Linked DNA regions of Homo sapiens: all the other regions are reported to be linked to region 3. The links are microRNA targets in miRTarBase. Many come from high-throughput screens and were not tested one by one. Region 3 holds a microRNA gene; each other region holds the end of a gene's coding sequence. Distances are between the middles of the regions.

Region 1 (4,000 bases), 130 Mb from region 3:
GCCCAATTCGTACCTACTTGGTGACAGCACGCAGTGCAGCCAGTTCCGGGGCCCGGGCTCTCAAGACCCTGCGCAGCTGGGGCCTGGAGACAGATGAAGCCTTGTTCCTTGCTGGAGCGCCCAAGGGCCCTCTCCTTGAGAAGATCCGCCCACACATCTTCTTTGATGACCAGATGTTCCATGTGGCTGGGGCTCAGGAGATGGGCACTGTGGCCGCCCATGTGCCTTATGGTGTGGCACAGACACCCCGGCGGACTGCACCTGCAAAGCAGGCCCCATCTGCACAGTAGCTGAACCACCGGCTTTACTGATCCACATTGCTCCAGGCTCCCTGACATACTTCGACACCTCCTCTGGTAGATCCCTCTAGTTTCTCACTGTTCTGTCCTTCTGCCTGTCTGCCCTCATCCCTATGAGTGATGTACTTGTAGGAAATTATGCAGACGGGTCTGGCATTCTCAACATCCCTCCTTTGGGGCAAATTCTGTGCCATGATCCTGAGTAGGAGAGTAGGACTGTGCAGAGTAGCTGGATTTCAGGGGGGAAGTTAATGGGTCTGAGAGGGGGAGGGTCAGAGAAGCCAGGATTTCTCAATAGTGACTTAGGATGAAAACTAGCTCAATGTGGTGTAAACAACACTGCTATGGGAGAGAGTGGATCTGGCTTCTAAGCTCTGTCCTGGTATTAACTGCATGACTTTGAGTAATCCCTCCCCTTCATGGCCCCCAGTTTCCCCATCTTTTGGGCAGTTTTCAAGCTCCCTTTTAGCCAAAGAAGCTTGGTTCTTTAAGATCGCCCTCTTAGAAGGAAGCATTCTGTGTCAGTGCTGCTGCTGGTATGTATGGCACCTTTGTGCAAATTACAAAAGGACACTGTCTAGGTGAATGAAGAACAAAAAGACATCCCTTCCTCTGGCCTGACCCAGTCCCATAGTGGGGTACACAGCTTAGTTAGCAGGATAGAGGCTGGATTTCAGCCCCCATGTGTCCCCTCAGCTCAGAGGCCTTTCTCAAATGGACAAAATGCAAAATCGCCCCCAGCAACTCTATCTATAATTTTACACATTTTGAAACCACTGGACAAGATGACCTATCTGCTCATGTGATTCTCTAACCTGAATGGTCATCAGGGCTCAGCCCAGGAAGCAAGGGGAGTGAATTGGACACGCATACAAACTCTCCTCCAGCCAGCAGGGGGCACTGCAGGCTCTTCCCGGGAGAAGCATTAGTAGCTGCCTGCTCAGTGTTTCCTTTGCTCTTGCTTTGAGCCGAAGTTCAGTTGCTCTTGCCTGCCAAGACCCTCACTTCCACCACCCTCATTCCTCCAGTTATTGCATCCTGTTGAGCAGCTCTGCTGGTGGGGAACGGGACAGAGCATGGGTGTCTACTGTTGTGGCCTCAATTCTAGGGGAAGAAAGTGCAGTGGCTGAGGTAGGCGGTTGTCCAGGCTGAGCCCCAGGGTGAGGTGCTGCCTGGGGTGAAGTGGGAAGTGTCAGGAGGTCTGGTGTGAGACAGAAGGTACTGAGACAGTGATGCTTGGAGAGGAAGGAGCTGAAATGTGCACTAGCAAAATTCTCCAGCTATGGGATTGTTAGTGGAAAGCCAGTCAGAGCTGCCTTTGGAGGTAATGAGCTCTCCATCAGTGGATGCTGAGCAAGGGCTTCCAGGATGAGATAACCTCCCCATGAAATGCATCAGCGGATCCTCCACATTTGCAAGAGCCCCTGCGGCCCCTTCTTCACCACTTTCAGAGGAGAACTCTCACCGCTTGATGAGTCAGCCTCCTCCTTTGCTGAGCATCCCTGGCTCTCTCCAGAGGGAGGGTGGAAGCACCAATGGCTGGTCCCCAGGGAGACAGAAGGGGTGAGCAGACATCTGTGTGTGGACTGATTGCCAGGCTTCTAGGAGGAATCCTAGTCATGAGCAAGCACTTTGTAAAGAAAACCAAAAGTATCATGAGAGGGGCAGAAGCCTGGAGATGTGGTGGTAGGAAATAGGGGAAGAGAACACCCTGGGGTTTTTGATCTTTGTCCTTCTGGGGACTCAGCTCAGGGTCTGAAAGGGCACAGGTTCTGTGCAGTGTGGGGCAGGGTAAGAGATGCAGAAAGATATTCCAGGAAGGAGAACAAAGTGAGAAGGCAGAGACGGTTCTCAAATGAGCAACGATTTGGGCCAGAAGAGAAAGGCTGGGCTGAGTTTTTACTGTCATTGTCAGAGGTCTCCATGAGGCTGGTCCCAGGGAGGAAGGGTATGGCTGTGTGGAGTGACTGGGACAGATACCCACAGTGACTGCTTTATCAGGGGACACTGGCATTATTGCCCCTGGAAGGGCATATGATAATGTCTTTGCACGAGGTCATTTCCACTGCACAGCCAGGATCCTTCTGGCTAACAGAGGAGGCCTTGGGGCAGAAGACCCGGGTTGTGTCTACTTCCAGAGCTCCAAGCCTAGACAGAGGTACTGTGAGGGCCAAGAACAACCTCAAGGAAACAAAAAAGAAGTGAAGGAGGGAGCTCAGCCCTGAGTCTCCTTTATTCTTGGCTGAACTGCAGAAAGGCCCTCTCCTTCTCACTCCCAGGGGTCAGAATCACCCCCGTGGAAGAGCCTCCAAGGCTCACAGAACCAGTGACTGCAAGAAGCCTACAAGGCCGGGCACAGCCCAGGCTCACAGCATGGCAACAGGCTGACTGACCAGGGTGGACCTGTGCACTGGGGACGGCACCAGATGTCACCTAATTAAGAAAAACTGCAGGGATTCTGGGACCTGTGTGGTCTTGCCCCCAGGGCCTGGTGATGAACACCACTGATGATTCCATGTCTCTCAGGAAGCAGGAAAATATGATGCTGGAAGCAGAAAGATAAGGTGCAGTAAAAGCCATGGATTTCACTGGAGCCATCATTAATAGACACAGACAGCCCTGGGCAATGGAGAAACACTAAGAGTCTAAATTCTATTATTGAAATCACAAATGAGCATCTCAGGCCTGGAAAAAAGCTTTCAGTCACTGGAATAAAAAGCCAGAAATCTGAGGGGCAGTCTTAGGCAGCAGTTACACGGGCCTTCTGATTGTCTTAGAGGTGAGGAGGTGCCCAGGGATGAGGAACATTGAGTGTTGTTCACCAGTAAATTAAAAAGCCAGGTGAACACCAAAGTCCCAGGCCTAACCAGGGAATGCAGCACTGAGGTGGAGCAGCCACGGCTTCTGAAACACTGGACCCCTTTAGCTGAGAGCACCACTTCCCCAACAAGCCCTGCAGAACACTGGTTCCAGGAGATGCCTGCCAGCAAAATCCCAGAGCCAATGGGACTGCTGCTTAGCAGAAAAATGGAAGCCCTGTTACTAAGCACTGAGACTGCTCAGCCAGTTGCAAAACATCCCCCTCTCCTATCTGAGAGCCCAATCAGAGTAGTGGGGATATATCAGAATGTGCCAGAAAAAAATAGAAACTAGCAAGAAGTTCAAAGCCAAGATGGATTTGGCATTATAATGACACTCAATTGGTGTGCACCAGTACAGCCAAACTGATGACTAAAACTTGAAATACCTCCATAGCAGTTGGTAGATAATGCTGCGCTGAGTCCCCTGAATGTCTCCTCGTGGCCTCAGCTGACCTTTCCACTGTGAGCGCTCCATTTTCCCACAATGCAGCCTCTAGGAGGCTGCAGCGGCACTATGGCCAGTGTCTACTCTGTTTTGTGGTGTCCTGGCCATGCTGGTTTAGGGAGGCAAAGTAACTTGTCCAAAGCCATAGAGCTAGTAAGTGGCAGTGCTGGGACTCAAACTCATGTCCATCTGATTCTAGGACCCAGGTTTTCAACCATTTTGTCATACTGCTCATACATATGCATGGAGATAGCCAGAGAAGCTCCATTCTGAGGTCTTCACTAAAGGAGTTTACTTACCTGACAGTTAATATGTTGATTTCCTGCATGGTGAAATGCTGGAATACATTTGAGTGCATGCTTTTATTATAGCTTCCTAAACACCTACAAATAATT
Region 2 (4,000 bases), not on the chromosome of region 3:
CTGAGCAGTGCCTTCCTGTTGCCCTCAGCAAGAATAACACTAACAGCCTAGGACTTCAGAGCACTGCTGCGAGGTGCAAATGAGGTGATATGGGAAAAGCATTTGGTGAGATGTATGGAAAGTGTAGAGACCCTGACCAGATGAGTCAATGGCCTTCTTCGTTACTCTGTTGACCTTTCTTTAATTACAGAGTCGCATAGCTGTCACCACCTTATCCTTTTTTGCTGCTATATTTGCCCCCAGCCATTCCTCTCCCGGCTTATGTGGCTAGACTCACCTGCCTGTGCTGCAGTTACTCCAGGCTTTGTGTAAATGTGCATTTTTTTCCAGCCCCCAGTTTATCAAGCTTTGCTTGAGTCACTTGTATCTGAAATACCATCTGTCACTCTTCCAGGTTGGGATCTGTCTAGTGGAAAACAGATGACAGTCATATGTTACTTAGTGCTTTACTATGTGGAGAACGTTTACATAAATTATCTTATTTCATTGCCACTAAGCCGGGGAAAGATTCAGGAAACCCATTTTAAGATGAGGACACTGAGGTCAGGGTAAGTGAGTGAGCTTTTACCCACCTCTCAGCTGCTCTCTAGTTGTCAAAGACCAACCCGTGGGGGTGGCTCAGGCCCGACCCCTGCAGCATATTCCTTGGGGCCTCCCAAGTGGGCCCGATCTGCTCACCCCAGCTGTGACTGTCTTTTGACAGGAGGAGGGAGCAGCGAGGCTGCACCCACTGCTCATAAAAAGCAGAGCTTGTCCACGCCGAGGGCTCGGCTGGGTGGGAGGCCGCTTCCACAAGGCTTTTTCTTGCTCCATACAAAGTGCAGACTGATGCTTTGAGATATAGTCAGGATTATCATTTTCAGAGCTCAAGCTCTAATTTCCAGGCATGTGACCAGACCTCTCTATCCATTCCTACAAGTGGTCGAGAGTAGCCCATAATTATTTTGGCTTGGTCTTTTAATAGCTTGAGAGTAATAATCTACATAGCTTGTAGAAGTGAATGTACTTATTTTAAAAGTTCTGTGTTTTTTGATGTTGTTGTTGTTTGGGACAGGATCTTGCTGTCGCCTAGGCTGGAGTGCAGTGGCACAATCTCAGCTCACTGCAGCATGGACCTCCCAGGTTCAAGCAATCTTCCCACCTCAGCCTCCTGAGTAGCTGAGACTACAGGCACATGTTACCACGCCTGCCTGGCTAACATTTTTATTTTTTATAGAAACAATGTCTCCCTATATTGCCCAGGCTGGTTTTGAACTCCTGGGCTCAAGTGATCCTCTCGTCTCAGCCTCCCAAAGTGTTGGGATTATAGGTATAAGCCTCTGCACCCAGCTTAAAAAATCCTATTTTCACAGTCTATGTGCAGAGCATTTTGGAAGTCAGGTAGAAACCATTTCCCATTTTCTATTACCTGGGTGATAGTTGACTGGTTTTTGTTCTTTGAAATCCATTTTAAAAGTGTATGGTCCTCTATGAAAATACTTCTAATTATTGATGTGTGAAATGCTTTGAAATCCTTGGATGGAAATCTTGTACCATGAAAGAACAGAACTGTTGGTGGTGTCTCTGGGAGAGGCTCACGAGGGCCGGGCAAGCCTGTGGGGGTAGCAGGCAGTCACTCCCATGGGGACAGGCTGACCTGGCAGGCTTATTTCCCATGGAAGTGGGCACTGAGGAATAAAAAGCAGTTTCAGGCCAGGTGCGGTGGCCCATGCCTGTAATCCTTGCACTTTAGGAGACTGAGGCAGGGGGATCCCTTCAGCCCAGGAGTTCGAGACCAGACTGGGCAATATAGTGGGACCTCGTTTCTACAAAAAATGAAAAAATTAGTGGAGTGTGGTGGCACACTCCAGTGGTCCCAGCTACTTGGGACGCTGAGGTGGGAGGATCGCTTGAGCCTGGGAGGCAGAGGTTGCAGTGAGCCAAGGTCATGCTATGAGTAACATTTTGAAGGTCCACTTCTGGGATTCATCCAGGAGCTAAACGGGTCATGTCCAGCCAACTCAGCATTCACCAAGGTACGTTTCCAGACCAAACACCACATTGTCCATAGACTGATATGCCTCAAAAACCTGGTAGAGGTGGGCACGGGGTTAGGTAGAAATCATCTTCCTCCCTTCCTTCCCCACCAAACTTTCTGGTGACAGAAGCTTTTCTGTAACTGGGGCAGAATGGGGTCAGACACTCTGGCAACTTACCCATTGGTGTTATGAAATATAAAACATTAATGTATTTATATAAAAAGTGATAGATGAAATTAAAATTTGCTGTTCTATTAAAACCATATTAGATTTTAAATTATTATAGAGATTATATTTTAATGTTTTAAATGTATTTGATACATTACAAAATTATTTTAGTTACAAGCATATCATTAAAGCTATTCTTTATTATTACAAAATGCTTTTACAATGCTATTCTTGACAACAGGAAAATACTTACCCTCACTGAAATATGTGGAGTACCATTTTTTGGAAACCATGTCAAGCATAATGGCAATATTCAGGTTCAATCTTCCTATAGATCTGCTCAATATTTATCTAAACCTTAGCTTCTATTCTTTTCACATGTTATTAGCTATATTTTCACTTAAAAAATTGGAGGCTGAAGGGGTAAGCAAACAAACTTTTGAAGTAGACAAAGCTCATCTTTAATCAACAGACTTTAGAGTCCAGTCTTTCCAAATCTGTTTTTAACGACAGAAACTTCTCCCTCCCCTGCCCCATTTTGTCCTCCCCATTAAATGGTACTGTGTCAATAAAATTCCCAAGCGACCTCTTTAAATCAGCGTTCTTTCCGATGCTGGCTACCACAGTCATGGAAAAGGGAGATGTGTTGGACAGGCCTGTCATTACAGGTAGTAGTTGGTGGTACATCCAGTCTGTATTTCTTACACAAAATTACATCTAAATATTTGACATGAGGCCATTTGCTATCATAAGCCATCACTAGGAACTTCTAGTCTGTCTCACTCGATTGAGGCTACAATGTTGTTAGGTGCTATGACCACAATGAATACAACAGACAGCCTCTCAGCTGTGCTGCAAAGTATTCATAACCAAAAGACCATATTTCAAATTAAATCATAGTAGCGAATGACATACCATTTACATATTACAATCTGAGCCTCTGAAACAGGGGGAACATATAATGGTATCCAGAACATCTTTACATCAAAATAACCTATCATACTACAAAGTTTTCACTTCCAAAAAGTGTAACAGAGTTTAAGGCACTGGTAACTTTGTCCACTGTTAGAGATTAAAACTTCCAAAGCAAATGAAAGAACCAATGTTCACCTTTAACGTGGGGAAAGTTGGCAAAAAGAACCCCAGGAGGACACCCAAACCTTCTCTGTGTCCTCTGTGGAACCTGGCTTTTTTCTCTTGTCCTCAGAGAAAGAAACAAATGCCGATATCCTCTGTTTAAAATATGAAAGTACCTTACACCAATAACCCCTAACAGCCTGGGGTCTCAGTGGAACTAACTTAAGTGAAAGAAAATTAAGACAGGCATAGAATTAGGCCTTTGTTTTGAGGCTTTAGGGGAGCAGAGCTCCATTGTGGCATCTGGAGTTTCACCTGAGGCCTACAGGGGTTTCAAATGGTTGCATTTAAGGTCAGAATCTTTGTGTTGGGAAATGCTAGCGACTGAGCCTTGACAGCTGAGCACGGGTTGCCTCATCCCTCTCATGCTGTCTATTTCTTAATCTAACAACTGGGCAATGCGTTAAACTGGCTTTTTTGACTTCCCAGAACAATATCTAATTAGCAAATAACACAATTCAGTGACATTCAGCAGGATGCAAATTCCAGACACTGCAATCATGAACACTGTGAAGACAGTCTTCTCCGTGGGCCGGGACACAAAGCAGTCCACAGTGTTGGGACAAGGCCAGGCGTTGCACTTCACCAGCCGCTGCATGGAGAAGCCGTCGTACATGACATAGAAGACGTACATGAAGGCGGCTTCGAAGATGACCCGGAAGAAGATGCTGCTTGTG
Region 3 (4,151 bases):
TTAAGGAGATTTTGGGCTGAGACGATGGGGTTTTCTAGATATACAATCATGTCATCTGCAAACAAGGACAATTTGACTTCCTCTTTTCCTAATTGAACATGCTTTATTTCTTTCTCCTGCCTGATTTCCCTGGCCAGAACTTCCAACACTATGTTGAATAGGAGTGGTGTGAGAGGGCATCCCTGTCTTGTGCCAGTTTTCAGAGGGAATGCCTCCAGTTTTTGCCCATTCAGTATGATATTGGCTGTGGGTTTGTCATAAACAGCTCTTATTATTTTGAGATATATCTTCTCTAGTTCTTTTAATTGTGATGTTAGGGTGTCAATTTTAGATCTTTCCTGCTTTCTCTTGTGGGCATTTAGTGCTATCAATTTCCCTCTACACACTGCTTTAAATGTGTCCCAGAGATTCTGGTATGCTGTGTCTTTGTTCTCGTTGGTTTCAAAGAACATCTTTATTTCCGCCTTCATTTCATTATGTACCCAGTAGTCATTCAGGAGAAGGTTGTTCAGTTTCCACGTAGTTGAGCGGTTTTGAATGAGTTTCTTAATCCTGAGTTCTAGTTTGATTGCACTGTGGTCTGAGAGACAGTTTGTTATAATTTCTGTTCTTTTACATTTGCTGAGGAGTGCTTTACTTCCAACTATGTGGTCAATTTTGGATTAGGTGTGGTGTGAAACCCCCCAACATCTTATACAATGTTGTGGAGCCTACTGTATGTTATTAAAATGTGTTGACAGGGCTTCAGATTAACACACTGGTGATTCTTAGGGCTTTTTGGTTGTTGTTATTTTTGTTTCTTTGTGGCCAAACTTAGGGCTATTTTATCAAGCACTTTCTATATGACACATGACTTTTTCTATTTAATTAAATATTTATAGTAATCCTATAAGCTAGGTATATTTTTTTTCCTTTTACAAATGAATTTGAAGCTTTAAAAGAAAAGAAAAAAAATCATACAGCTGATAATGGTGGAGAAAAGATCCCAATTCAAGCTTGCCTTTCTCTCTAGTCTATTCTTAACTCCTTTGTAAATTGCTGGTTGCCATTTCACCAAGTGGCCTATCGAGCTGACCATGTCTTTCTTTTTTTTTTTTTTTTTTTTCTTTTTTCTTCTTCTTTTTTTTTAGACAGAGTTTCTCTCTTGTTGCCCAGGCTGGAGTGCAATGGCACAATCTGAGCTCACTACAACCTCCACCTCCTGGGATCAAGGGATTCTCCTGCCTCAGCCTCCCGAATAGTTGGGATTACAGGTGTGTGCCATCACGCCCCGCTAATTTTTGTATTTTTAGTAGAGATGGGGTTTCGCCATGTTGGCCAGGCTGGTCTCGAACTCCTGACATCAGGTGATACACCCGCCTCGGCCTCCCAAAGTGCTGGAATTATAGGCATGAGCCACCACTCCTGGCCAGCCATATCTTATACACAGTGATCTTAACCAAAGCCTCATACTCAAATTTAGTTTGCAAGACGTTGCTGAAGATAGAACGCACTGCTGATATGGCTATTGAGAGGAACACAGCCAAAGACAGCTAATTTGTCTTTTCTTGCTGCTCGAGGAAGACTTTAAAATTTGAACCTGGCAGCATAGGTTGATAAAACTGAACTGCAACATGTGCTACCCTTCAAGAAAAAGAAAGGATAGCCCAGAGGGTAGAGCCTCAGGCCCTGAGGGCAGAGGCCTGAGCCAAAGCCTTCAAGCCTGAAGGAATTTGTCCTACTGGATTTCAAAATTGCTTGGGATTAGTGATTCTTTTCTTTCCTCCTTTTTCCTCCCCGGTTAAATGGGAATGTCGATAACGGTTACCCATGCTTGTCCCACCATTGTATTTTGGAAGAAGATAACTTGTTTTCTAGTTTCACAGGTTCACAGATAGAAATTTTGCCTCATCCTGGTCCATATCCAGAGTCTCATTTATACCTGATTTAGATAATTTATATGATGATGAGATTTTGGACTTTTGAATTGAAAATATATAAATGAGAGTTGAGACTTGATTTCATGCTGCTATGGGTTGAGACTTTGAGGATGTTGGGATTGGGTTAATGTATTTTGCAGATGGGATGGATGTGAATCCTTGGGAACCAGAGGATGGCCTGTAATAGGCTGAACAATTTAACAATGCCCCTCCTCAAAGATATCACATCCAAATTCCTGGAACCTGTAAATGTTATCTTACTTACAAGAGAAAAGGGTATTTGCAAATATAATTAAGTTAAAAATCTTAAGATGGAGAGATTTTTCTGCATTATGTGGGTGAGCCCCAAACGCTATAATGAATGCATCGTTAAAAGAGAGAGGCAGAGGGAGATTTAACACAAAGAGAAGAGAGAAGGTGATGTGATGACCTCAACAGAAAGAGAGAAATTTGAAGATGCTATGCTCTATCTTTGATGATGGCCAGAGGAGCCATGAGTGAAGGCGTACAAGAGGGGTCTTGCCACTGAAAAAAATAAGAAATGCCAGCATCCACCAGAAGCCAGAAGCGGCAAGGAATGGATTCTCTCCTGGAGCCTCTGAAAATGAACATGGTACTGTCACACTTCGTTTTCAGCCTACTGATAGTGATTCCCGACTGCTGACTTCTAGAACTGTGAATCAATTGCTATTATTTTAAGCCATTAACTTTGTGGTAATTTATTACAGCAGCCACAAGAAACTAATACCTTTGGTTTTTCAGCGTTTCCTATTTTACTACTGTGAGGGGGCTTATAGATTGCAAATGATGGAGCAAACAGCAGTGTTTCTCAGATCACTAGAAGTCTGCAGCAATAGGCTTAGTATTCACATTATAAGATTGTTATAAAATTGTTCTAATTTTGTATTTGCCTTCCCTTTGGTTTCTAACATCATCATTTTACATTATCTTAACTTTTTTTAAATTTCAGAGAGATCCAAACATTGGTTAAAACTTAGCTAACACTAAGGGTGCATATAGTTGAAACTGTTGGAGCTGTTTACTACAGCACTTTCTATGCCCTTCTAGTTCTGACTTCTAACCCTGATCTAGAGCCACGATGATGTATTTCCCTCACCTTCTTTGGTCACAGAAGGAGGACATTTCACCCAGATCTGCGGCCTAATCACAGGCCACATTTCTGAATAGGCCACGGATCTGGGCAAAATGTCCTCTTTTCTCAGGAGCTCCCCAAACAATAAATCAGTAAATCATATGAATTTTTGCATGAAGTTTTATGAATAGTGGCTTTCTTCTGGGAATACCTCCCTTTTTTAACTTCCTCTGATTTTTTTCTGGACTATGTATCAATTTTTTTCTTTAATGTTTCTTCTCTCTTTATGCTGATTATCATCTCTTTAAACTTACCCAACTCACAGAAAGCTACAAATTTTTGCACTTCCCCATCCCACATGCCTATAGCAGAGTCAACAAACCATGTGAGCAGCAGAAAACTCATGTCCTATTTAAAGAACACGCTGCTTTCTGAAATGAACATGGCAACTAATCTGCCAATTAATTATTTGTCAATAATGAAACTGCAGCCACATTGGCTTTTGACGTGATTGTAATATTCCAATATTATACTAAAATTTCATGTTCTGGGAGCCCTGACAACTTTCAGTTAGATGAGCTCTAATTAGAAGTTTCTAGTGCTCAGTACTTTCCACTATGAACTAGCAACTACACATAGAGATCTACAATCTGATCTTTCATCATGAAACTTGAGATATAAGTACCTTGATGCTTCAACAGAGCTAAACCAAGGCTCCACCTCTTCCTAATCATGCTCCAACCAGTATTTTTTTTTAACTTAATGCCTTTTATTCATTCAACAGCTTGCTTTGCAGAGCTCACAGCTGTAACAGATGTGTCCTATGGTAAGCTCTTCCACAGTAACTGTAGCCTGTTGGTCATGAGCTTCCATTTGTTGAACTCTACATTGTGACTGACAAACTTGGCTGCACCTTAAAATTACCTGAAGAGCTTTTAAAACTTGCTGTCAATTAAATCAAATTCTCTGAGAGTGGGACCTAATGCTCAGTGTGTTTTTTAAAGCTCCCAGTTTATTTCAGTGTGTGGCTAAAGAACCACAACACAATATCCTAAACTTCTCATTACTGATCATTCTTTCTTCAATGTTCTTTTTCTTTATTCATCATCACTTAACATTTCCTCTAAGGCTTTATTAGC

The links. The annotated mature microRNA hsa-miR-1295a reads UUAGGCCGCAGAUCUGGGUGA and lies in region 3 at 3,064-3,084, opposite strand. An mRNA with a match to its seed (bases 2 to 7 or 8) in the 3' UTR can be bound and repressed. Matches are read on the target gene's strand: a 7mer-m8 pairs with bases 2 to 8, a 7mer-A1 pairs with bases 2 to 7 and ends in A, and an 8mer does both.
Region 1: the mRNA of NT5C1A is a reported target of hsa-miR-1295a. Seed matches in the 3' UTR shown: 7mer-A1 at 3,159-3,165.
Region 2: the mRNA of GJB2 is a reported target of hsa-miR-1295a. Seed matches in the 3' UTR shown: 7mer-A1 at 3,518-3,524.

Annotation. Positions count from the first base shown.
Region 1 is chr1:39,655,411-39,659,410 of GRCh38, reverse strand. NT5C1A (5'-nucleotidase, cytosolic IA) reads left to right here. Exons shown (of 6, transcript NM_032526.3): 6 at 1-4,000. The coding sequence ends at 290. Among named protein-coding and RNA genes, the nearest start is that of NT5C1A, 15 kb to the left of the region's middle. RefSeq lists enhancers at 1,040-1,334, 1,286-1,355.
Region 2 is chr13:20,185,175-20,189,174 of GRCh38, forward strand. GJB2 (gap junction protein beta 2) reads right to left here. Exons shown (of 2, transcript NM_004004.6): 2 at 2,296-4,000. The coding sequence ends at 3,727. It overlaps LOC107984553 (a long non-coding RNA gene), which reads right to left and starts at 1,017. Exons shown (of 3, transcript XR_001749956.2): 1 at 278-1,017.
Region 3 is chr1:171,098,675-171,102,825 of GRCh38, forward strand. It overlaps MIR1295A (microRNA 1295a), which reads right to left and starts at 3,132; the gene lies at 3,054-3,132. The region is part of intron 2 of FMO3 (flavin containing dimethylaniline monoxygenase 3); the gene reads left to right. MIR1295B (microRNA 1295b) reads left to right here and starts at 3,065; the gene lies at 3,065-3,124.